7 linked regions of the Homo sapiens genome follow. The protein of the gene in region 1 interacts with the protein of each later gene in a biochemical or structural test. Each region holds a gene or a part of one and is shown on either strand. Other genes may lie near its edges.

Region 1 (3,500 bases):
TTTGTCTATGTGCTTCCACACTTCTGTAGCCCCCAGTTCTCAGAAGTGATGGGGATGGAGTTCCTCATGGAAACTAAAGTTAGCAATAATTAGCATTTAGTGAGCACCTACCAGGGGCCAGGCACTGTGCTGAGTGCTCTGTGCACATCCCATTGCATTGTCTCAACAACCTGGTGGTAAAGAAGTTAGTATTATTTCCACCTTAGATCTCAGGAGACTGAGTTTCAGAGATGTTACATGGTTTTCCCAAGGTCACACAGCTAGTAAGAGGCAGAGCTGGAATTCAAGGCTCAGGCCCCTCTATCTACCAAGCCTTTAGGAAGTATCAGGCAGTATCATATAAACAATGAAATCTGGGCTCTGAATTTTCTGATTTTGACCAGGGTCCCCTCAACTCAATTAAAAGAGAACAGAGGAAAGGTGCTAGCTTTCTGCTGAACTGACATTTTCTTCGCCCACCTGGTACACAGTAGGCACTCAATAAATGATTATGCTGAACTGACCTAGAGGAAAAAGGCCACTGAGGACCTCCCCCTCCACTGTGTGCACTGGGAGGAAGGGCAGCAGAGAAACCCCCTCACCTGCCTTACCAGTTGGCAAGGCTATCTCTGTTCTTATCTGACTGGGACACAGCTCTGTAAAGACCTACAAGACAGATAGCAACAGACACACCACAATACTTTCAAGTGCATAGGACAAAGAAATCCAGGGCAAGCCCCAGAGAATGGGTGATGACCTCAGATGCAAAGTATGTAGTGAGCCAATTCTGGAACTTCAGCGAATTTCACAGACTAAACAGTGGGAGGGAGCGAGCACTTGGGACTTGTGCTGACTGAGCAAGCAAAGTTACCAGGTGACTGCTGGGCTCACAGGAGAATCTTTCTTTGTGGGAATGCACTAGAAATACACCAGCAAGCTGAGATCCCCCCATACAAGCAGCATGGCCAGTTAGGCAGCTCCTCTGCCTTAGGCTGTTGGTTTTCCCACTGTTTCTGGGTTCAGCCTCAAAGAGTGCGGGGTGGAACAGAAACAGGACCCTCTCTGCTGAGAAAATCTGCAAAGAGACAAATTTTGATACTCGGCAACTACTGCAGCCAAAGAGTCTGGGCCAGGGGCTAGAGGAAAGGCTTAAACAGCCACCTGGTAGTTTCAGACTCAGAGGAGGGAGCAGGCAGGGAACATGAGAGAAGAGAGACATTAATGAAGGAAAAATAGCCAAGGCCATACTAAAAATATTTCCCAGGCACATATTTCTCCCAATGCATAGCAGCTCTTTCAATTAAGGATGTGTCATTTCCTGGGTTACTAAGTCCAGATCATGGAATATTCCACTCTGGGACAGTAAAAGAGGGTCATGTTCTCAGCCTCCCCAGCACCAAAGCAGCTAAAAACAGGGATCACAGGCCCCCAGTGTTTCCACCACTCCTGAGCTGCTTGGAAGCTTCCTCTCAGGGTGTGTCTGTGGAAAGCCTAGGGGGACCAGTATGACACCGTTTCTCAGGTATCTCAAATGTCCCCACAGTCGCCTGGAAGAGAATCATCATCTCAAGCCAGTAAGCCCTTGCAAGAACCAGAATTTGAGGGAAGAAGAAACATTGGTGGAGACTGCCTTGGTTACTATGATAAATGGCCAGTAACCTTTAACATCTTCTAAAGCCAAAGTCACACAGAAAAAAGTCTGCCCTACCAGACTCAAAGAAATGTTAAAAGAAATCTTAGTGTCAGCTGGGCGCAGTGGCTCACGTCTGTAAGCCCAGCACTTTGGGAGGCCGAGGCAGGCAGATCACCTGAGGTCGGGAGTTTGAGACCAGCCTGATCAACATGGAGAAACCCCATCTATACTAAAAACACAAAATTATCCGGGCGTGGTGGCGCATGCCTGTAATCCCAGCTACTCGGGAGGCTGATGCAGAAGAATCGCTTGAACCCGGGAGGCGGAGGTTGTGGTGAGCAGAGATCACTCCATTGCACTCTAGCCTAGGCAACAAGAGTGAAACTCCGTCTCAAAAAAAAAAAAAAAGAAAGAAAGAAATCTTAGTGTCCTCTCAGTGTCAGGCACAGGGAACAGGGATGCACATGTCATGGGTGTCCAATGACATCTGTCTCTCTCTGGGGAGGGGAGGGGTGACTATATGCAAGGAATGCCCAAGGAGCCCTTGAGAGGTGTTGCTACAACAGCCCTTTCCAAACATTTAAGTAGTTTGGAACCTCTAGTATCTTAACCTCTCTCAACCTGCATTTGAAGCCATTGGTTTGCAATTTAATTACCCTAAGAGTTGAGCAGGTTCTTGTTAAAGGTGAATTGGGGAGAAACTGAATGGCAAAGCGGGCTTCAGAGGCAATACAAAAATTGATGATTCCAAGTGAGAAAGGTTCTCAGAGCTAAGGCAAGTTTGGACCACACAGTGTTTTCCAACAAAATTTAAATGTCACCAATAATTAAAAATCAGGAGATTTCCGAAAAAAAGAGGCTTTCCAACTTCTGTTTTAATGGAAATAATTAGCAGAAATGAGACCTGCATGAGGCACGTGGCTGGAGCCAAGGAGCAGCGTCCCCTCCGGACCAGGAATGCACGCTCCAGCTGCCACCCCCACCCCCACCCAGCACCCTTGTTTACTCAGAGCTCTGCCTCAGTTCCTCATCCTGCCTGCCACTTTTGGGTATTTGAGTGGGCAATTCCTAACCTAGTCCACCCACTTTACACCTACAGAGAATTGGCCCCATCTTTAACCCATCCTCAAACCCAGTTCCTTTGCTGGGATTCCCAGTGTTTCTGGATTCATCCTCAAAGAGCCTGAGATGGAGCAGACACTGGGCCCCTCTGCTGGCAAGATCCAGGAGACTCCAATAAAGACTCAAAGGGCTTGGTGGCTCATGCCTGTAATCCCGGAAATTTGGGAGTCTGAGGTGGGAGGATCACTTGGGCCCAGGAGTTCGAGACCAGCCTGGGCAACACAGTGAGACCCCAATCTCTACAAAAAAAAGTAAAACTTAGCCAAGTGTGGTGGCACACACCTGTAGTACCAGCTACTCAGGAGGCTGAGGTGGGAGGATCACTTGAACCCAGGAGGTCGAGGCTGCAGTGAGCTGTGATCAAACCACTGTACTCCAGCCTGGGTGACAGAGCGAAAGCTTGTCTCAAAAAAAAAAAAAAAAGACTCAAAGGCAGCTGCAGCCAGATGATCTGTGACAGAAGAGGACATGCCTCCTCAGTCCCCAGCAAGGCACTTCCTCAGACACCTCTCCCCTTTCCACCTGCAGCCCTACCTCTCCCCCAGTTAAGCCTGCCTCTGTCCCCAGATCAGAACCTATTCCTAGGACAAGCATTTATATCCTCAGGGACCTCTCTTCTTTCATGACCTCTGGTCCACTCTAGGGAAAAAGCAAACACTGCTTCACCAAAACTATGCAGCATGAAGTATTTCTCCCTTGCTTAGTTCAGATGGTGGACATAAGCACAGGCTACTCTAGATTCCCTCAAACACTCCCCGACTAATAA
Region 2 (3,500 bases), on another chromosome or scaffold:
TGTTGGGATTACAGGCATGAGCCACCATGCCCAGCCAAGATAGTTTAAACAGCCCTGGCCTCAACTTCTTCACTCTGTCTGTGGGTCTACTAGGAGGGGAGATGCTACTAGGCTCCTCCCATCAGTCTAGGTTGCCCTTGAAAACCTTGATCCCCTGAGCCTCTGCCCCTCTCCACCTACAAGCCTCACCTGCACGGTCATGAGAAGAGACCACCAGTGGCTGACTCCAGGGTCCACAGCCAACTGCATTGGAGACGCACACACGTACGATCAGGTCCTTTTGGGGATCCCAGCCTGTCAAATTGGCCCTGGTCCCCTCCACTGTCAGCTCATCCTGCAGCCAGGAAAAGCCCCCACCCCATAGTGAGCCTGGGGAGAAGGCCTCCAGCTGGGGCCTGAGGACAGAAAAAGGTCCAGCTGGGAACATGGGAGTATAGGGGCACTGTGGGTTCAGGGGCTGCAGGAACACAACCTTCTGGGAGTAATCACATTCCTGTTCCCGGCTGCAGGGGCCTCTCCAGAACACAAACAAGGCTCAGTCCCGGAATGCACAGGTGGGGGATGGGAGCGAACTGAGCTGGGGACAAAGCCTTATCTGTGCCCTCCCCCAGCTCAAGCAGGAATGTGCTTCCTGCTTTATTTACAAAGTGCACACAGGATGCAACCCTAACAGGAGACATAATCCTTTGAGAAGTGGAGCTTGCAGAGGAGGGTGAGGAGGAAAGGATTCCCTGGGGCTGCGGGAGACCCAGGCCCACCAAAGACAATCATTTTGAAATTCTTAAAGGCCTTAGAACCCTGAAGGCTTATACTCCAGGAGAGTGGAGAGAGGGGAGGGTTCTGTCTTACCTGGGTTCCATTGTCTTGAACCCAGGACAGTTTGTAGGGTCCCAGGGGGCCTTCCAAAGGGGCCTCGGGGATCACTTCTTCCCACTCCAAGATGAGGCCTGAATCTGTGCGGATGGCATGGAGGTTTTGGGGAGCGCTGGCTGGGGCTGCAGCCAAAGAGAGAAGATTGCTAAGACCCCTGCCCTTCCCACCATCATAATTCCATGCAGACCTTTGGAATCAACTCCCAAGAACTAAACAGCTCTGAGAGGCACAAACTGGGGAAGGGTTCACCTCCCAGCTCTGACTGCTCTCACCCACTGTGCTGGGGGAGGGGTAAGCAATGGGCAGGACAGGCAGCACCCCAGCTCGGCAGTGTTGCTCTTCATCACCATGGTTACTGCCTTTCTGCCTCACCCCTTACCACTCCCCTCTCACAGCTATGCCAGCCTCTTTGCAATTGCCAAGCAAGTTCCTGTCATAGGGTCTTTGCACTTGCTGTGCCTTCTTCCGGCAGTGATTTTCCCCCAGATATTTACATGGCTTCTTCTTTATCGTTCAGATCCCAGATCCTTCAGATCTTTATCCTTCAGACCTTTTTAGGGGGGGTTTCCTTAACCACCTGGGGACACTCTTTATCAACCACATTATCTGATCTTTTCCAGTTTGCTTATCTGTTCCACCTACAAGAACTACTTACAAGGTGGTATGTAGTTATATGCAGTAAATGTTTGCCGAATGATGCCTGAACCTCCATCTCTACCAGCACCATTCAGAACTCCAGCCAACACGGCCCCCTTCCCGGCTCCAGCCCTGCCCACCCGCTCTGCTCTATGCATCCCTTACCTAGACCCTTGGTCTGAAAGGGCACCCAGTCAGCATAGGGAGAGGGCCCCAAGGCATTGGCACAGCGCACCCTGAGGCTGTAGTTGGTGGCAGGCACCAGGTCCCGGAGCAGGCAGGTAAAGGGGGGCACAGGGACCACAACAGCCAGGACTTCCCAGCCTCCTGGGGCCTGTGTCACCTACAGAAAAGCAGAAAACTAATGATGTAGGGGAGAGCCTGTGAGAGATGGAAGATGGGATGGGTATAGTTATGGGTGCTTGAATGAATGCTTCCTCTATCAGCAAACACTTGCAACCCACGCCCTCCCATCTGCCCCCACCCCAATAATACACAGGGTTCCACATCTTCATACCTTTGCAAATGCTGTTCCTTTCACTTGGAATGACCTGCTCTTCCTAGCAAAGGCCTACTCATCCTTTAAGACTCAGTGCAAATATCACTTTCTTGGTGAAAGCCTTTCTCAACCACTCCAGAAAACTCTTGTCCTTTTGTACTTGGTACGAAACTCTTAGGGTATACTTACCACTTACTGTGCCTGTTTACATGCCACTCCAAAGTTCTAGAGCTTCTGAAGCTCAGAGAAAACTGGGAGCCTAGGGCACTATGAACCAGCCCTTCATCTTACATTTTGGGGGCCCAGGGCAAGAGTACAAAGAGATCCACGTACTATATGTCTAAATATTTAAACATTATAAATCAGCTAACAAACTATTAAATAGTTTCTCTCTTAATATTTTGACCAATAAACCTTCAAAACAACCTGGGAGATCAGGTTTGCATTTGTAACTCTCCAAATCCCTGGAGTCCCGAGTCAGAATGAGGAGGCACTGGAAGAGCTGGCCTGAAGCCAAGGTCTGCACCATGAGGGGCCTCATGTGCACAGGCGTGGACAATGCTGACTGCATATCCAAGCTCCATTCCCATCCCCCTCACGAATGGCTGCCCCTTGGGCTTAGAGGTGGTCATATCACACTGCGGTCCATCCTTGGGAAGATGGAACAGGGAAAAGGCCCACACAGACCCCAGAAGCAGACTCAGAACCATTAGGGCAAGAGATCCTGAATAGCTATAGTATAGTGTGGCAGTGAGGGGGTCCTTGCCATCTGGATGGGCATATCCTCTTGGCCCTGTAGGCTCTTTGCCCCGGGGAAAGGGGTGTGGCCAAAGGAGGGCCAGAGTAGGATCCTCTTTTTTTTTTTTTTTTTTTTTTTTTTTTTAATAGAGACAGGATCTTGCCCTGTCACTCACTCAGGCTGGAGTGCAGTGGCATGATCTCGGCTCACCGCAGGCTTGACTTCTCAGGCTCAAGTCATCCTCCCACTCTAGCCTCCTGAATAGTTAGAAGTACAGGCGCATGCCACTGTGCCTGGATAATTTTTGTATTTTTTGTAGAGAAAGGGTTTTGCCATGTTGCCCAGGCTGGTCTTGAACCCCCAGGCTCAAGCAATCCTCCCGTCTCCACCTCCCAAAGTGCTGGGATTACAGGCATAAGCCACTGTGCCCAACCTCAGTAGGGTTCTCTAAATGGTGGAGCCCAGAGCAGGGGCCCCTCCTGCCCAGGGGAACTGCCCAGAACAGTTTTGAAAGGTACTCATTAAATGGCCTTTGAGTAAACGGATGAAAATGAGCAAGCCTGCATTGCCTCTTGTTTTTAGTATCACCTTACACAGTTTTTCCACTCTCCAAGGCTTAGGGCCCCTTCTGGTCATCTTGTTCTCTTTGGCTTGAGTGGGGGTTGGGGGGTAAGGTGGAGCATGATAGGGTGAGTATCAGCAAAGGTTTGAGCTTTCACCTAAGTAAGAAAAACTCGTCTGGGTGTGCTGGTT
Region 3 (4,058 bases), on another chromosome or scaffold:
GCTGACGTTCCTTTCTCAGTAGTGGTCATAGAGTAAGTACTGGTGACGGTGGTCACTGGCTTCTGTGTCACGGGAGTCGAGGTGTAAGAGCTGGTGAAGGCCACCTGCGTCGTGGTCACACAGATGGAGGTGGGGTGGGAGATGGTGATTATAAAGCTCGTTGGATACACGCACTCAGTGGTGGCTGAATAGACCAACACGGTGGGTGGAGTGGTTTCAACCTTGAAGGCAAACTTGGACGTCGGGGTGGTTGAGGTGTTGGAACTGACTGGAGAGTTGAGCAATGTTTCAGAGATGAGTGTGTCATGGGGGGAGGTAGTGAGTGTCATAGGTGCATTTTCCCTGTGGCCAGGAGCAGGAGAGGCGAGCTGGGGGACACCAAGTGGCCACCCAGCCAGGTCTCTGGAGTGTGGAGAATTGCTGAGCACAGCGCTGGCTGCTTCTGCTCTGGGGAAAGGCACTTGAGAGATGGATGTGGCCGTGGATAAAGTTCCTGCATTGGCGGCAGAGCAGAGGAATCCACTGGTAAATCCGTGGGTCATTTTGTTACATCACTCATGTAAGCTACTCACTCACCCATTTTCCAGGCAGCATCACAGAGGGCAGGGCATATTACAGCTGACTCCTGCATCAGAGGCAGCTTGGAGCTGGGTGCTTTGTGGTGCTGGAGACGACTGCCTGTCTGCTCCTAGGGGAGCAGTGGGGCATGGGAGCCCTCATTCCTCACCGGGCCTTGGCCTTGTCATGGCAGGTCCTCCTGTCCTGATATAGCCGAGCTGGGCAGAGCCTCCCTCCCCTCCCTTCCCTCCTCTGGTCACACCCAGGCTCCTCCTCCCTCTGCCCCTTCCTCTCCTCCCCCTGCTACTGCCTGGAGTGCTCCCATCCCCCCATTAACCTTCTGCTCCCACCACTGCTTCTCCCGGCACCCTGCTGCTGTCTGGGCTGACTCCGCTTTCAAAGAGAAAAAGAGAGAACCCAGCCATGTCCTGGCAGGGGGCGCATCACAAAAACCAGGAGACAGGGAAAGCTGAACAAAGAGGGCCAGGCACGGTGGCTCATGCCTGTAATCCCAGCACTTTGAAAGGCCAAGGCAGGAGATCACTTGAGGTCAGGAGTTCGAGACCAGTCTGACCAACATGGTGAAACCCTTTCTCTACTAAAACAAAATACAAAAATTAGCCAGGCGTAGTGGCGTGTACCTGTAGCTGAGGCAGGAGAATCGCTTGAACCCAGGAAGCAGAGGCTGCAGTGAGCTGAGATGGTGCCACTGCACTCCAGCCTGGGTGACAGAGCAAGACTCCATCAAAAACAAAAACAAAAACAAAAACAAAAAACTGCCCAGAGAACACCAAAGAGAAACAGGCTAAGCTCACACACTAATGACTTCAAAGGGCATGGAGTGAGGACTAGGTGAAGAGGCAGAGAGACAGCATAGAAAAGGAAACTTCCAGAAGGAGCTACCTCAGCAGTCAGGCGTGATGAGTTCTGGAGACCTTAAGGCTTAGCAGTGAGTGTTCATCACACAAATAGACATATTTTTCTATACTATTCCCTTTTGGCCGTGGGATTCATTAGTTTACAAGCATGAACCCCAGCATGTGGATTTCAACCCATTTCACAATTTGTCAGAGTTAGGATCAGAGATCCGGCTGTCGGGGGTGTCAGGGACAAGGAAGACAGGCAGCCACAGCAGATGGGAAGTGGGAGGTACCCGACCTGCTACCCCTCACCTCGGGCACAGCCCATCTTGTGGCTGAGAGCTGGGGTGTCACGTCTCAACCTAGCTCGTGGGTGCCAGGGAAGTGGGGTCAGGGATTATGAGAATCCCCAGGCTACAGCCCTTGGCTCCAGGATGTGGCCCTGGAGGTGACTGAGAAGGGGACTCATGGGCCTGTAGGCTGGGTGGCCTGGGATCGGGGATCAGAAGCAGACACTGAAGTACAGAGAAAAGAGAAGTATAGAGGAATTGCGAGGTGTTCCTGCAGGGCAGAAGAGAGAAGCCTGGGACCCCACGACGGGTAGTCTCAGACGCACCCTTGGAAGCGAAGTGGACATCAGGAGCTCCCTGCCCCGGCCCTGGTACCAACAGCTGTACCCAGACACATGGGCCCTGGCCGGGGTAAGAGAGTGACGGCAGAGCTGGGGAGGAGCCGCCGGGGGACAAAAGGCAGAGAGGCTGAAACCAGAGGACCGAGACCAGGGGTAGAAGTTAGAGGGCTGTCAGGGAGGGAGAGGCCAGTGTGAAGGGGACACTCAAGCTGGGGGCGTGAGGCAGGTGACAGAAGGAGTCAAGACAGGAAGGGCACTGCTCTGGGAAGACGTAAATCCCACCCTCTACCCTCCAGCTGCAGATACAGATTGGGGCTCAGCCGCTGCAACCTGCTCAGTGCTTGGTGGAGAGTGGCAGAGACCCAGCTCCCTCACTCTTTCCCAACCTCGGTTTTCCCTGCACCTGGAGCTCTGGAAGAAACCTCTCCTCACCGCCCCCTCCCCCAGTCAGGCCGTGCCTCGGTTCTCCCTGCACCCAGAGCCCCAAGCGGTGCCTTCTTATCCCCCCTCCCCAGGCCTTACAGCCACTTTTCCCTCCCCTTTCCTGGAACATCACATCAGGAGCTTTTCTCCAACCCCCTTCCGCCTCTCCCCCTTACCTGTGGCCCACGGGGAGGCCTTGAGCATCCAGAGGAGGCCGAGGAGCCCCAACAGCTGCATGGGCCCAGCGGGCAGGGGGCTGGGGCAGAACAGGCTTCAGGACCAAGACAGCGGCAGGGACGTGGCCCTGGGGCGTGCACGTAATGAAAGTGCTGGTTATCGGTTTTGCTGAGCGTCAGGGCTGAGCACAGCCTCACCTTTGCACCGCCCCACCTCTCCCCTCTTCCTCCCTTCTCCCTGCACCCGGACAGACAGACGTCAGCGCTGTGGGAAGCGGGACACGGGGGAAAAAGATAGGACAAGTCCAGGAAGTGTCAGGCAGGAAGAGCTGCTATTGGCTCAGCCCCACAGCCTGCCTGGCCCACATGGAACTGCCTGGAAGCTGCCCTTCCTCCCCGACACCCGTGGAGGGTACCCTTGACCGAGGGCTTGGACTCTGGAGTCTGGTCCTACTCCTGCAGCCTCTCCTGAGTTTCAATTCCTCCTGCTGGGGAGACAGTGGCACCTCGCTCTCCTTCAAGCCCCTTCTGTCCCTCAGTCTGCCCCTGCTCCATCCTGTCCCCCGCAGGACCCCATAGGCCAGAAAAAACCGTGGGAGTAATTAACACAGAATTCCATCTGAAGTCATTTTATTATCTGAAGAGTTGGGGCTAGGTCCCAGAAAAGGAAACATGGATGACCAAAGGAAACACTCAAAAATACTAGTCTGGGCCCGGCGCGGTGGCTCACGCCTGTATTCCCAGCACTTTGCAAGGCTGAGGGGTGTGGATCACTTGAGGTCACGAGTTCGAGACCAGCCTGGGCAAAATGGCAAAACCCCATCTCTACTAATAGGCTGAGGCAGAAAAATCGCTTGAAACCAGAAGGTGGAGGGTGCAGTGAGCCAAGAGCACACCACTACACTCCAGCCTGAGCAACAGAGCGAGACTCCATCTCAAAAAAAAAAAAAAAAAAAAAAAACTGGTTTGGACCCAGCACATTGTTTGACCTATCCAGTTTGGGCAAAGGTGTGAAGAATAAACGTTCTTACCCAGCTGGTGGATGTGTAGGTGGGTTGGGTTGTTTTAAAAGAGTAATTTGAGGATCACTTGAGGTCAGGGGTTCGAGACTAGACTGGCCAACATAGTGAAACCCCATCTCTACTAAAAATACAAAAATTAGCCTGGCGTGGGGTGGGCACCTGTAATCCCACCTACTTGGGAGGCTGAGGCAGGAGAATTGCTTGAACCCCAGAGGCAGAGGTTGCAATGAGCTGAGATCGTGCCTCTGCACTCCAGCCTGGGCAACAGAGCGACACTTCATTTCAAAAACAAGATAAAGTAAAACAAATGTTCTTATCCAGCTGGTGGGTGTGTAGGTGGGTTGGGTTGCTTTAAAGGGGTAATTTGGTGGCATCTATTAAAATTTTA
Region 4 (3,476 bases), on another chromosome or scaffold:
AACTCTGGCCTATGTGCACATCAAGGCACAGCACCTTTCCTTAAACTTATTTATGACACAGAGCCTTTGCTCACATGTTTTCCTGCTGACCCTCTCCCCACCATTACTCTATAGTCCTGCCACATCCCCCTCACCAAGACAGTAGAGATAGTGATCAATAAATACTGAGGGAACTCAGAGACCAGTACTGGTGAGGGTCCTCCGTATGCTGAGCGCCGGTCCCCTGGGCCCACTGTTCTTTCTCTATACTTTGTCTCTGTGTCTTATTTCTTTTTTCAGTCTCTCATCCCACCTGACGAGAAATACCCACAGGTGTCGAGGGGCTGGCCCCCTTCACCCTGTGATCGACAGGACAGAGCTGGGCACGCAGGCTGGGATTCACGGTGCAACCTGCAGCCACGGGGTGGAGAAAGGAAGCCACGTCGCCAGGAAGGCAATGGCATTCAGAGCCTTGGACTCCTTAATTGATGCAATGACGGCAGCTCGGGTATCCATAGCAATTGTGGAACTTGAAAAGTTTTACTTTAAAAAAGTGCATCTATACATCATTTAAATTTTGGTGCCAATGTAGAATCGGAAAATCGAGTCTTAACCAATCAAAATTCACGTGCCGGCCCCTTCCTCCAGGTCATTCCTCAATGGCTAGCCTTGGAACTTCTCAGCTAAATATGCATTGTTGTGGGTATTTAATAATATCCATAATTAAGTTAAATGGGGGCAACGACAAAAGCCTCCGTGCTATTATCCTCCCCAGAGCCTGGGGCCGGGAGGCCCATTGTCATAGAAGGAAGCCTTGAATATGGGCTCCCGTCCTTCATGCAGGGCCACTAAAAGGAAGTTTCCTTGGCAGGAGAGGCTGTGGGAGGCCCAGCATCAATGGTTTCTTCTTTCTCCTCTGGAAGCTTCACCCTGTTTCTCTTGGCAAAAATGCGGTTTATCTCCACAAATGTTTTGCCCTTGGTCTCCGGAATAACCACGTAGATGTAAATCGCAGTGAGGAGGCAGATTCCGGCAAAGATGATGAAACTGTAGGCACCGATGGCCTCCTAGACCAGGAGACGAGAAAGACAGGAGGGGGCAGAGAAAGGCAACAGTGCTGATTCAGCTGAGCACGTTGGCTCATGCCTGTAATCCCAGCACTTTGGGAGGCCAAGACAGGTGGATCACCTGAGGTCAGGAGTTTGAGACCAACCTGGCCAACATGATGAAACCCTGTCTCTATTAAAAATACAAAAATTAGCTGAGCATGGTGGTGTACACCTGTAATCCCAGCTACTTGGGAGTCTGAGGCAGGAGAATCGCTTGAACCCAGGAGGTAGAGGTTGCAGTGAGCCAAGATCGCGCTACTGCACTCCAGCCTGGGCAACAGAGCGTGACTGTCTCAAAAAAACAAAAACAAAAACAAAAACCCCAAAACAAACAACAAATAACCAATGCTGGTCGAGGCCTTTGTGAGTCCATAAAGGAGTTGCTTGGCAGCCAGTTTTGTTTCACTCCTGGAGGAATGATATAGCTAGAAAACTGTGATCACTAAAGATTGTTTGCAGGAAAAAAAAAAAAAAAGCTAGAAATTGGATTCCCCCTCACCCTATTATCAAAAAGAATCTGGTTGGGTGCTGTGGCTCACACCTATAATCCCAGCACTTTCGAAGTTTGAGACCAGCCTGGGCAATATAGCAAGACCCCATCCCTAAAATACATAAATAAATAAATAGCCATGTGTGGTGGCCCATGCCTGTGGTCCCAGCGACTTGGGAGGCTGAGGTAGGAGGATCACTTAAGCCTGGGAGGTCAAGGCTGCTATGAGCTGTGGTTGCACCACTGCATTCCAGCCTGGGTGACAGAGCAAGGCCCTGTCTAAAAAAAAAAAAAAAAGACTGCTTAACCTTTTGACAGTAGGGGTTTATGGCCTCTGTGCCCTGAAGGTGCTGAGAGCGCAGAGTTTGTGGCCCATCTTGTCTTCGGAACAGAGGAAGGAAGCGGTGGGGGATCTGCACCCTGGCTCTGGCTTTGTTTGCTGGCGCCTTTGAGCTCCGCGGACCAGAGCCCCTAAGCAATAGCCCTTTACAATGTCAGCAGGGGATCACCCTTCAGTAACTGAGAAACCGGTGTCTTCAAGGGTTTGCAGGCAGTGGGGCCACGTGTGTCTGTGGACCCTTGGATGTGTCTGAGAGCCTGTCCCCACCTTGCTGGATTCACAGATGTGCTTAGCGGAAGGGGAATACATCTTACTCCCTGGAGGCCCGGTGGAGCGGGTTGGGGAAGGGGCCCTCACTCACCTGGATGGATGGGAACAGGAAGCCTATGATGAAGTTGGTGAGCCAGTGCACTGCCCCGTCCACCATGAAAGCTGCCCGCCGGGAGGACTGCAGGAAGATCTCGGTCCTCACCACCGAGGGGACAGGACCTGGAGGGCAGAGCAGGATGGGTGGGGCGGAGAAGGACCCAGGTGTCCCCCAGGGCTGGCGGGACGCGGCCCACTCTAGCCTCTGACCTAGGACCCTCAAGAGTACCAGCTGGGATTGGGGACTGGAAAGGAACCCTGCCTTTACCCACAAAACCAGGGCGTGATCAGAGCAGGAGCTGCAAAGATCCACTTTGCAAAGTCTGGTTGGAGAGCCTGGAATTGAATTTCCATTGCTGCTTCTTCAAGGCCAATGACGCTCCATGAAGGTTTGCAGAAAGTAAATGGATGGGAAGCTTCGTGGGAGCAGCAGGAGTGAGTGGGCTCCAGCTCACAGGCAGCAGAGCTTTCTGAAAGAGCTTCCTTTGCGCTGGCGTCACTCTGACTTGAGACCGCCCGCGCTTGGGAAGTGCCGCCCTCCTATGGCGGATCTGGGTATGGCAGGGCCTGAGGGCTACACCTTCTTGGACAACTGTTTTTCATTATCGCTTCCTTAAGAAGCCTTGTCTAAAATGTCTAAAGCCATTTTTGTTCCCTAATCGCCACTCCCATGAAATTTTAATACTGTGCGTCTGTTTAGGTCCTGCATATATAGATATCTGTAGCTTTACACAAAGAAAGAGGAAGATTCTGTCCCTCCTCCTCCAAGCTTCCCACCCCCGCTTAGGTGGTGAAATGGCCTCATTGAAAAGGTCCGGTCTCACAGATCACTGGAGGTCAGGAGTTCGAGACCGGCCTGGCCAACATGATGAAACCCCATCTCTACTAAAAATATAAAAATTAGTCCGGCATGGTGGCGTGTGCCTGTAGTCCCAGCTACTCAGGAGGCTGAAGCAGGATAATCTGTTGAACTCGGGAGATGGAGGTTGCGCTCCAGCCTGGGCAACAGAGTGAGACTCCAACTCAAAAAAAAAAAAAAAAAAAGAAGGAAAAAAAGAAAAGGACCGATCTCCCTCTCTGGATGGACATGGAGAAGAATTCAAAGCCCCTGAATGAAGCTGGGATGTCAAGTGCAAACTCCTGCAGCCCAGTGACTTGGGGCCCGGGCCCCTTCTCCAGGGCCCTGACCCCA
Region 5 (2,902 bases), on another chromosome or scaffold:
ATGAACGAGCATCAGAATAAGGATGATATTAGGGGAGAAAAGAGGATTCTGGCAGAAATGAGACCAGAGGTTCCTTTTGCATCTGTCAGAGTATTTGTTGGACCCCCTAAATCAGACTCTCGTGCAGAGTCTGATTTATATTTTCATGACCTGTGGATTGACTTCACAATCAGTATGTTATATTTTAGTAACGTTCTCTAGAAGTTAGGACGTGGTTAACATTTCCCAAAGCCCAGGACATTACAAAGTATTTTAATTCTTTTAACTTAGTCCAGACACAAGAAGCCAGATTATATTTTAGGTGTCGACAGAACTATTTGTTTAAAATAGCAAGTTCAGGTGAGTTAGTAGTCATGAAAATTAAAATGAAATACCAATTCCATTTCCTCGTGTACCTCTTTGCAAATGTCGGACAAAGCAGAGTTTTATAATAGTTTAATAACTTGTGTAACAACGGTGGCTTTGGTGTATCTCTAAAGTGGAGTCTTTAAATTATAAAGGATTTTGTGTGCTTGAAATCCTAGGAAAAGAAAGAAAAAACAGGTTTAAATATATGAATTCATATTTAAAGAAACATAAATCTTATGAATATCAAGCTATATTTATTGTAAGAATTCTACAGGTAAAAACCAGTATTTATTTATTTATTTATTTTATTTTTTGAGATGGAATCTTGCTCTGTTACCCAGGCTGGACTGCAGTGGCGTGATCTCAGCTCACTGCAACCTCCGCCTCCCGGGTTCAAGTGATTCTCCTGTCTCCCAAGCAGCTGGAACTGCAGGCACATGCCACCATGCCCAGCTAATTTTTGTATTTTAGTAGAGATGGGGTTTCACCATATTGGCCAGACTGGTCTAGAACTCCTGACCTCGTGATCCGCCCGCCGCGGCCTTCCAAAGTGCTGGGATTACAGGCGTGAGCCACTGCACCTGGCCAAAACCAGTATATATTTAATTAAACTTGTTTTATGGGGAATTAACTAACTAACTCCTAGCAGACAAGGTACTCTGAAGCTTTGCCTAGAGAGTAAAGAGGTAGGACTGGAAGGCAGAGGCAGACAAATCCTGTTAGGAGGATGCCCCGGCATCTGGTGTTGGAGGCCAGGCCTGTGGCTACACATCCTATGATGTACAGGACAGCACCTTACACCAAAGAATGATGTGGCCCAAAATATCAGTAGTGCTGAGGTTGAGAAACCCTGTGGTAGGGCACAAGAGAACTGAAGGGGACTCTAGCTGTTAGTTGATAAGGGCAACTGAGAGGAAGGCAAAGAAAAAATAAATGGCTTTTGTTCATTCAGTTTAGCCACAATGTGCTTCATACTGTTTGGAGGGATGGGAGTATTCGATTCCACACTCCAAGAGTACTTTCTGTAAATTGCAGAAACAAAGACTTTCCATAAATTGTAGGCACAAAAATGGTGGGAACAAAGTTTCTTGTCCCCTAATTAAACATCAGTAAGCTTTCAGTGTAGTAAACCACAAAATAAGGTGAATTCTGTAATAGTTTCTGGAACAGTTTTTGAAAATCAAATTTTTACAGAAAAGTGGGTAAGCATTTAAAATACTGATGTCCAGGCTCCCCCGCCCCACCCCACCCCCCAGACTCTACTGAGAAGAAATCTGACAGAATTCCTGCCATAGATGAGTAAAGCATTTCTGAGAACCCATGCTTTGTTTCTCAAGAAACGACTTAGGCCTCTAAAACCATAGGAACTCCCCCTGCCCCAACCCACTATATTCCTGAGAAAATCATCCAGAAGGCTGAATATCCATCCAAAGAGCTACAAAATCTGAGTAACAATGGTATTTGCTGCATCAATGTAGTGTTTACAAAGGGTCCAAGTGTCTAAATTATGTTCCTTAAAACCTCTGAGTTAGGTAATTACTGCGTCTTTTCAAACATTTCTGAAATGTTCCTTTCAATTATAACAGGATATTCTGTGCTCTGGTCTGAATGTTTGTGTCACCCAAAATTCATATGTTGAAACCTAATCCCTAATGCAATACTATTAAGAGGTGGGGCCTTTAGGAGGTGATTAGGTGATGAGGGCAGGACCTTCATGAATGGAGCTAGTGCCCGTACCAAAGAGGCCAGAGGGTGCTTGTTTTGCCCCTGCTACTATGTGAGGACACAGCAGGAAGTCTCCATCTATGAGGAACAGGCTCTCACTAGACATTGAGTCTACTGGTGCCTTGATTGTGGACTTCCTGGCCTCCAAAACTGAAAATAAATTTGTTGTTTGTAAATTACCCAGTGTATGGTATTTTTGTTATAGCAGCCCAAATGACTAAGACATTGCATAGCCCTAAAATGTTCCAAGTGCTTCACATAACCAAAGGTGAGTCCTAGAACCACAGCTCTGCTGGAACCACTCTGCTTGGTCAAGCTACAGGGAAGAAAAGAGCCTGGGTCCCAGCTCCACCACTGTTACCCTGTAAGAACCTGTGTTTTAATTTACTCATCTGTCAAAGGGAGCTGATAATGCCAGACCTAGTGATACTAAGAAGGCAGACTAATTATAGAAAATACCATGAAACAAATAATGATATGATTAAAGATCACTTCTGCTATTGGAAATGCCAGGTATCTTTATCATGCCATCCTAGACAGGGTACAGAAGCTAACATCTACTTAGCTCCTTTTAAACACCAGTGATAGACACTGGTGCAAAGTGTATTAAAAGTGAAAATTCACAAAGTCCATATAATTACTTCATTTCCCTGCCCTATTCCCCAAACATATTCATTCTATAAATATGCTTTAAAGATACTCACATTTTCACTCATTGTCGTGGCTTTAGATGAAGAATTACTCTTCCTGTTTGTGGAATATAAAAGACAATATTTACTACATTATCACTTCCAATCTGGAACATATATGCTCTTTTAGTTAATTTTAC
Region 6 (4,290 bases), on another chromosome or scaffold:
AAATAATAAGAGCTATCTATGACAAACCTGCAGCCAATATGATACTGAATGGGCAAAAACTGGAAGCATTCCCTTTGAAAACGGGCACAAGACAGGGATGCCCTCTCTCACTGCTCCTATTCAACATAATGTTGGAAGTTCTGGCCAGGGCAATCAGGCAGGAGAAGAAAATAAAGGGTATTCAATTAGGAAAAGAGGAAGTCAAATTGTCCCTGTTTGCAGATCACATGATTGTATATCTAGAAAACCCCATCATCTCAGCCCAAAATTTCCTCAAGTTGATAAGCAACTTCAGCAAAGTCTCAGAATACAAAATCAATGTATAAAAATCACAAGCATTCTTATACACCAATAACAGACAAACAGAGAGCCAAATCATGAGTGAACTCCCATTCACAATTGCTTCAAAGAGAATAAAATACCTAGGAATCCAACTTACAAGGGATGTGAAGGACCTCTTCAAGGAGAACTACAAACCACTGCTCAATGAAATAAAAGAGGATACGAACAAATAGAAGAACATTCCATGCTCATGGGCAGGAAGAATCAATATCATGAAAATGGCCATACTGTCCAAGGTAATTTATAGATTCAATGCCATCCCCATCAAGCTACCAATGACTTTCTTCACAGAATTGGAAAAAACTACTTTAAAGTTCATATGGAACCAAAAAAGAGCCCGCATACCAAGTCAATCCTAAGCGAAAAGAACAAAGCTGGAGGCATCACCCTACCTGACTTCAAACTATACTACAAGGCTACAGTAACCAAAACAGCATGGTACTGGTACCAAAACAGAGATATAGACCAATGGAACAGAACAGAGCCCTCAGAAATAGTGCCGCATATCTACAACTATCTGATCTTTGACAAACCTGAGAAAAACAAGCAATGGGGAAAGGATTCCCTATTTAATAAATGATGCTGGGAAAACTGGCAAGCCATATGTAGAAAGCTGAAACTGGATCCCTTCCTTACACCTTACACAAAAATTAATTCAAGATGGATTAAAGACTTAAATGTTAGACCTAAAACCATAAAAACCCTAGAAGAAAACCTAGGCAATACCATTCAGGACATAGGCATGGGCAAGGACTTCATGTCTAAAACACCAAAAGCAATGGCAACAAAAGCCAAAAATGACAAATGAGATATAATTAAACTAAAGAGCTTCTGCACAGCAAAAGAAACTACCATCAGAGTGAACAGGCAACCTACAGAATGGGAGAAAATTTTTGCAACCTACTCATCTGACAAAAGGCTAATACCCAAAATCTACAATGAACTCAAACAAATTTACAAAAGACAAACGACCCCATCAAGAAGTGGGTGAAGGACATGAACAGACACTTCTCAACAGAAGACATTTATGCAGCCAAAAAACACGTGAAAAAATGCTCATCATCACTGGCCATCAGAGAAATGCAAATCAAAACCACAATGAGATACTATCTCACACCAGTTAGAATAGCGATCATTAAAAAGTCAGGAAACAACAGGTGCTGGAGAGGATGTGGAGAAATAGGAACACTTTTACACTGTTGGTGGGACTGTAAACTAGTTCAACCATTGTGGAAGACAGTGTGGCGATTCCTCAGGGATCTAGAACTGGAAATACCATTTGACCCAGCCATCCCATAAGTGGATATATACCCAAGGGATTATAAATCATGCTGCTATAAAGACACATGCACACGTATGTTTATAGCGGCACTATTCACAGTAGCAAAGACTTGGAACCAACCTAAATGTCCAACAACGATAGAGTGGATTAAGAAAATGTGGCACACATACACCATGGAATACTATGCAGCCATAAAAATGATGAGTTTATGTCCTTTGTAGGGACATGGATGAAACTGGAAACCATCATTCTCAACAAACTATCGCAAGGACAAAAAACCAAACACCGCATGTTCTCACTCATAGGTGGGAACTGAACAATGAGAACACATGGACACAGGAAAGGGAACATCACACACCGGGGACTGTTGTGGGGTGGGGGAGAGGGGAGGGATAGCATTAGGAGATATGCCCAATGTTAAATGATGAGTTAATGGGTGCAGCACACCAACATGGCACATGTATACATATGTAACAAACCTGCATGTTGTGCACATGTACCCTAAAACTTAAAGTATAATAATAATGAAATAAAAAAAGAAAAAAACTGTACTGAGAAGACTTTTTGCTTATTTAATTGGAGATAAATTATCTAGAAAATATATTTCCCTTCACCCTGTATCAAACTTGAGTTGAAACAAGGAAACTGAGGTGGTTATGTGACTTTGAGACACCTGTTTTTTATGTTTGCCAATTAACTCTTCCCTCTACTCCCACCCTTGGCTGCCTTCATCCAGTTAAGAAGACATCAAAGAAATAAGGAGTCTAGTGTGATCAGTCAATGTAGTTGACAAAAATAATTATCCTGTAGCATATTTTAAGAAGGTAACTAGAGCTTCATTTTTGAGACTTGATTTTTATTTGTTTGGAAATTAATAAGACCAAGATTTGAAACTTTATATTTAAATATATAAAGGTATTATTTTCTCTACTTTATTTTTAACAGTATATAAACCTGAGGCTCTTCTACTCCCAGAAGGAATATTTACTATGTTTTAAGGGCTCAGAATGTAAGCGTGTGGAAGACACAGAGCATAAAATTCGTAATATTTTTCAAGACCATCAAAATCTTCTTCCGTGAAAATTTCTTACATAAAATATATGTAAAAATTAGAGAATCTCAATGGTTCTTACCTGGATTTAGAATCCTACAGCAACTGCAACAAGTCCACCCTTTATTCCTCTTAAAGTAGTTGGCTTTTTGAAAACAAGTCCAGTGATGATTAACCACCTTATTATGTCATTGCTCTAGTCAAACATATAAAACCTAGTTAGTTTTAAGAGTTCACTCCAGTTGCCAATATTTAAAGATTATATTTCTCAGAATTCTCACATTATTTTTTGTTAATCTTAACAAGTAAACCTTACTTTTGGGAATGGCTTTTACTTGTTTATTCAATTAAGTTGGTGGCATAAGATTTTTTTCTTTAAAAATATGAGTACAATAAATTATTCCAGGTATTTAAAACTTCCAAATAGGAAATAATTTAAGACAAATAAAAAATATGCCTACAGGTTACATTGGCATTTAAAAATTAAAATATACCCTCTTTGCTTGGTACATAAGTATGGTTCTAACGTGGTATGTATGGAGACTGGAGATACCACCTGGAATAAGAGAGTCCCAATTAACTGCAAGACCATTTTTCTGAATGATGAAAATTAAGACTGCTTTATGCGATAGATTCTTTACATCAAAACAGGAAAGAATTATTAATATCACAGTTTCCTTTTATTGACTTGACTTGTGGAGAAAGGAAGAGCTTAACTCAGTTAAAAGTTTTCTTGAGTAGAGATGAAGTTTAATTAATTCAATAACTCAAACATTTTAGACTCTCAATTATACCTTGGACATTAAGCTCTCTTCTGAAATAAAGTACAGACCCTTCTCTCACATAAATATATATATTTCAGAAAAGTGTGAAGATATATGTATGTATATACACACAAACATACATGTATACATATATACACACTTTTACCTGTATACACATATGCACATATATATATGTGGTAATGTGAGGATGCATATATGAGAATATGGTTACCCCTTATCATTCATGGGACATTTGTTGATATGGTTGCAGCAAAATGTATTTGATGTCTGTGCCACAGTTATCTGATTGATTAGTTCTATTCTTGGTTAATTATTGAGAGTATTGGAATCATGAGACAAACTAAAGAGTAGTGTAGAGGGGAAGAATGACTGTGCAGAACTGAGAAATGTAGACCCAAGGCCAAAATATTAGAGTAAGGCTTCCAAATACTCTGCTGAGTAAGAATCTACTGGCGAGTTGTCAAAATAGCAATCCAGTCCCATACCCAGCAGATTCTGGCTCAGGAGACCAAAGATTATGCCTGTTAAATAAGCACTTTGAAAAATTTTCATGTACTGCCAGATTTTGATATCATAACAGGAATGCAGAACATTTTCCATCATTTTTATGGACTTCCTTTTATTCACAATGGGAATACAGTTTGGGTTTTCTCAGGCTAATGGTTTTCTCCTCAGACATCCATTTCATTGAAAACACATCAACATGTTTGGAGACTAATATATATATTATATACAATGAAGATAAAACAGTACAAACTAACTAACAACCTTTATAATCCTGAGCTAAAGGTGCCAGTTGTAAAATTCTCCAATATTTTCAGAGGTCAAAG
Region 7 (3,500 bases), on another chromosome or scaffold:
TATTTTATTTTAGAGATGGAGTTTTGCTCTGTCACCCAGGCTGGAGTGCAGTGATGTGATCTCGGCTCACTGCAACCTCTGCCTCCTGGGTTCAAGCGATTCTCCTGCCTCAACCTCCCGAGTAGCTGGGATTGCAGACATGTGCCATCACGCCCAGCTAATTTTTGTATTTTTAGTAGAGATGGGGTTTCACCATGTTGGCCAGGCTGGTCTCAAACTCCTGGCCTCAAGTGATCCACCCATCTCGGCCTCCCGAAGCACTGGAATTACAGGTGTGAACCACCACATCTGGCCAATAACTATTTTAATTAACGAAAGTTAAATAGCCACGTCTAACTGGCAGCTGCGGTTTGGAACAGTGCAATTCTAGAGAATCCAAAGGGAGGGCCTCCACAAGACAGGTTCCTAAATCCAGACCGAGGACAAGAAGCAGGGCACTGTTCCCTGGACACTCACCAGCCACTATGAACAGAAAGATGCCGAAGCCCAGCACGTAGTAAGGCCACAGCACGGAGAACTGCAGGGGGCCGAGCTTCATCCTCAGAGCCTTGATCTCCAGGGCATGCAGCACCAAAGCCAGGAAGGCACAGGCCCCTGGAGGGTCACAGGGAGACACCCTCGGTCTCCTCCCATGCTACCCGCCTTCCCTCCAAACTTCACCCCCTGTGGCTCCTGCCTGGAGGCTCCTTCATCCTTGCCCCCTCTCTGAAACAAAACTCCTACCCAGATGCCTGTCCCTCCCTCCTTTCTGACTCATCTTCAAAGCCCATGTGCTTTACCTTCCAGGGAACCATCATCAGAACTCCCTTTCCTAGCACCCTCTGCATCTGCCCTTAGCTCACCTCTGCACCTTAGCAGAGGGTGCAACACTTTGGATTAAATGCAATCCCATTTTCCTACTGCTCTACCTCCACCATTTGCCTAGGAGCCTCTCAGGGTGGAGCCTGGGTCACCCTTTATAAATGTCAAAAGGGGCCAGGTGCAGTGGTTCATGCCTGTAATCTCAGCAATTGGGAGGCTGAGGCAGGAGGACCGCTTGACACCAGGAGTTCAAGGCCAGCCTGGGCAACATAGCGAGATCCCCATCTCTACCAAAAAAAAAAATGTTTAAATTAGCCAGGAATGGTGGCACATGCCTAGAGTCCCATCTACTTGGGAGGCTGAGGTGGGAGGATCACTTTAGCCTGGGAGGTTAAGGCTGCAGTGAGCTATGATAGCACCACTGCACTCCAGCCTGGGTAACAGAGTGAGACCCTGTCCCTAAAAAGAAAAATTATGCCTCTTTTGACATCACAGAGACTGAGCACCCCTCTTTCTCTGGACTCCTCCCCAGGCCCTAGCGAAGGTCAGGGATCACCTAGCTGTTCCACACCTGTGAAGAAGCTGATGCAGGCTAACACAAAGTTTTGCTTCCAGGTCCTCGGGAAGAACTCGGATGCAAAGGGCATCATGATGAAGGTGGTGACGAAAGCCAAGAAAACTGCAGAGAGCAGGAAAACCCGGCCGAGGATGATGTAAACTGCAGGGGAGGGAGAAGTGGGGCTGAAGCTGGGAACCCTGACCCGGAAAGGTCAGAGTCCCTCAGAGCCTGGGCAGGGCTGGCCCCCGGAGCCTCCACCACCCTTAGATCCCAAAGCATGGCCTTGGGACCAAGGTTGTGACCATGCCACTTTGGCCCCAAGAATGCTTTGGCCCCACAATTTGATTCCCAATGGCATAGAAATATAGGAAAAAAAATTAAATTGACAATGTCAGACACTGAAATCACCAGTTCTTAATAAACATATTTTTTCTTTTTTTGAAACAGGGTCTCCCTCTATCGCCCCAGCTGGAGTGTGGTGGTGCAATCTCAGCTCACTGTAACTTCGACTTCACAGGCTCAAGCAATCCTCCTGCCTCAGCCTCCAGAGTAGCTGGGACCACAGGCATGTACCACCACACCTGGCTAATTTTTTTATTTTTATGTTTTGTAGAAACAGGGTCTTGCTCTGTCGCCCAAGCTAGAGTGCAGTGGCACCATCATAGCTCACTGCAGCCTCAACCTCCTGGGCTCCAGCGATCCTCCCATTTTGGCCTCTCAACGCGCTGGGATGACAGGCGTGAGCCACCGTGCCTGGCCTTAACAAATGTTATTATGGGAATTTGGTTGTACCAAACCATGTATCATCCACTAGGGGAAAATGGTGGTTTTAAAAAGCAACACAAAATCAAACTCTTGTGATAAAATTTGTTGCACATGCAAATGTGAAGAATCACACCTGTATTGGTTACCCTGAAGTAATTCGCCTGTGGAAAATCAAAACTTTGTGAGGTCAAAATGTTCTGAACGCTGAGGGAATCCCCACATCTTTATTTAATTTTCCTAGTTAATAGGAGTGAGACTGGGTGCAATGGTTCACGCCTGTAATCTCAACACTTTGGGAGGCTGACGTGGGAGGATTGCCTGAGGCCAGGAGTTGGAGACCAGCCTGGGCCACATAGTAAGACCCCATCTCTACAAGAAATTTTAAAAAGTTGGGCACGGTGGGGCACACCTGTAGTCCCCGCTACTTGGGAGGCTGAGGCAGGAGGATCACTTGAGCTGAGGAGATGGAGGCTGCAGTGAGCTATGATCACACCAGCCTGGGCAACAGAGCGAGATCCTGTTTTTACAAAACCTAAAATTAAAAAATTAGCTGGGAGCTGTGGTGCGCACCTGTAGTCCCAACTACTCAGGAGGCTAAGGTGGGAGGATCGCTTGAACTCAAGAGTTGGAGGCTGCAGTGAGCTGTGATCACACCAGCCTGGGTGACAAAGCGAGATCCTGTTTTTTACAAAACATAAAATTAAAAAATTAGCTGGGAGCTATGGTGAGCACAGGTAGTCCCAACTACTCAGAAGGCTGAGGCGGGAGGATCGCTTGAACTCAGGAGTTGGAGGCTGCAGTGAGCCATGATCACGCCACTGCACTTCAGCCTGGGCAACAGAGTGAGTCCCCATCTGTAAAAGCAACAACAATAACAGAAGTAGTGAAATAGACCAAAATTAGCAGAGCCAGAGTCTGATAACAGGGTGATTTGTTCTCTGACTGCTGGCATGATGCAGACCCATGTGAAAATGAGTTTGCATACCCTCCTGAGCTGGCAGAGGTGGGCAGCTGGCAGTGGGATAAGGAGTCAAAGTTGCTGTTGAAGCCCCAGATATCCCAGAGTCTACCCTTGGGTTAACCAAGCCTGGTTAATTTTTTGTGTTTTGTTGTTGTTGTTGTTGTTGTTGTTGTTGTTGTTGTTTTGAGACAGGGCCTCACTCTCACTCCCAGGCTGGAATGCAGTGGCATGATCACAGCTCACTGCAGCCTCGAACTTCTGGGCTCAAGCAGGAGCCCTCCAACCTCAGCCTTTTGAGTAGCTGGGACTACAGGCACATGCCACCATGCTCAGCTAATTTTCTCATTTTTGTAGCAACAGGGTTTGGCTATGTTGCCCAGGCTGGTCTTGAACTCCTGGCCTCAAGCAATCCTC

Evidence for each region.
Region 2: the proteins of PDLIM1 (region 1) and TYRO3 interact in a test that uses a peptide from one of them, tested with the Homo sapiens proteins (one large-scale study listed by IntAct).
Region 3: the proteins of PDLIM1 (region 1) and MUC3A interact in a test that uses a peptide from one of them, tested with the Homo sapiens proteins (one large-scale study listed by IntAct).
Region 4: the proteins of PDLIM1 (region 1) and SLC2A7 interact in a test that uses a peptide from one of them, tested with the Homo sapiens proteins (one large-scale study listed by IntAct).
Region 5: the proteins of PDLIM1 (region 1) and JAM2 interact in a test that uses a peptide from one of them, tested with the Homo sapiens proteins (one large-scale study listed by IntAct).
Region 6: the proteins of PDLIM1 (region 1) and SLCO1B1 interact in a test that uses a peptide from one of them, tested with the Homo sapiens proteins (one large-scale study listed by IntAct).
Region 7: the proteins of PDLIM1 (region 1) and TMEM225B interact in a test that uses a peptide from one of them, tested with the Homo sapiens proteins (one large-scale study listed by IntAct).

What each region holds. Positions count from the first base shown.
Region 1 is NC_000010.11:95,260,004-95,263,503, forward strand, and holds part of PDLIM1 (PDZ and LIM domain protein 1), read right to left. Parts: intron 1-3,500. UniProt on the Homo sapiens protein: Cytoskeletal protein that may act as an adapter that brings other proteins (like kinases) to the cytoskeleton. Involved in assembly, disassembly and directioning of stress fibers in fibroblasts.
Region 2 is NC_000015.10:41,565,712-41,569,211, reverse strand, and holds part of TYRO3 (tyrosine-protein kinase receptor TYRO3 isoform 1 precursor), read right to left. Parts: intron 1,853-3,500; coding exon 1,675-1,852; intron 996-1,674; coding exon 850-995; intron 335-849; coding exon 190-334; intron 1-189. UniProt on the Homo sapiens protein: Receptor tyrosine kinase that transduces signals from the extracellular matrix into the cytoplasm by binding to several ligands including TULP1 or GAS6. Regulates many physiological processes including cell survival, migration and differentiation.
Region 3 is NC_000007.14:100,948,276-100,952,333, reverse strand, and holds the start of MUC3A (mucin-3A precursor), read right to left. Parts: upstream 2,801-4,058; 5' UTR 2,710-2,800; coding exon 2,649-2,709; intron 494-2,648; coding exon 1-493.
Region 4 is NC_000001.11:9,002,473-9,005,948, forward strand, and holds the end of SLC2A7 (solute carrier family 2, facilitated glucose transporter member 7), read right to left. Parts: intron 2,408-3,476; coding exon 2,280-2,407; intron 1,047-2,279; coding exon 828-1,046; 3' UTR 501-827; downstream 1-500. UniProt on the Homo sapiens protein: Probable sugar transporter. Even if its physiological substrate is subject to discussion, it is able to transport glucose and fructose. Does not transport galactose, 2-deoxy-d-glucose and xylose.
Region 5 is NC_000021.9:25,712,258-25,715,159, reverse strand, and holds part of JAM2 (junctional adhesion molecule B isoform 1 precursor), read right to left. Parts: intron 2,821-2,902; coding exon 2,778-2,820; intron 930-2,777; coding exon of another isoform or gene 855-929; exon of another isoform or gene 586-854; intron 521-585; coding exon 488-520; 3' UTR 1-487. UniProt on the Homo sapiens protein: Junctional adhesion protein that mediates heterotypic cell-cell interactions with its cognate receptor JAM3 to regulate different cellular processes. Plays a role in homing and mobilization of hematopoietic stem and progenitor cells within the bone marrow.
Region 6 is NC_000012.12:21,129,704-21,133,993, reverse strand, and holds the start of SLCO1B1 (solute carrier organic anion transporter family member 1B1), read right to left. Parts: upstream 2,801-4,290; 5' UTR 2,758-2,800; intron 1-2,757. UniProt on the Homo sapiens protein: Mediates the Na(+)-independent uptake of organic anions.
Region 7 is NC_000007.14:99,604,767-99,608,266, reverse strand, and holds part of TMEM225B (transmembrane protein 225B), read right to left. Parts: intron 1,520-3,500; coding exon 1,373-1,519; intron 595-1,372; coding exon 457-594; intron 1-456.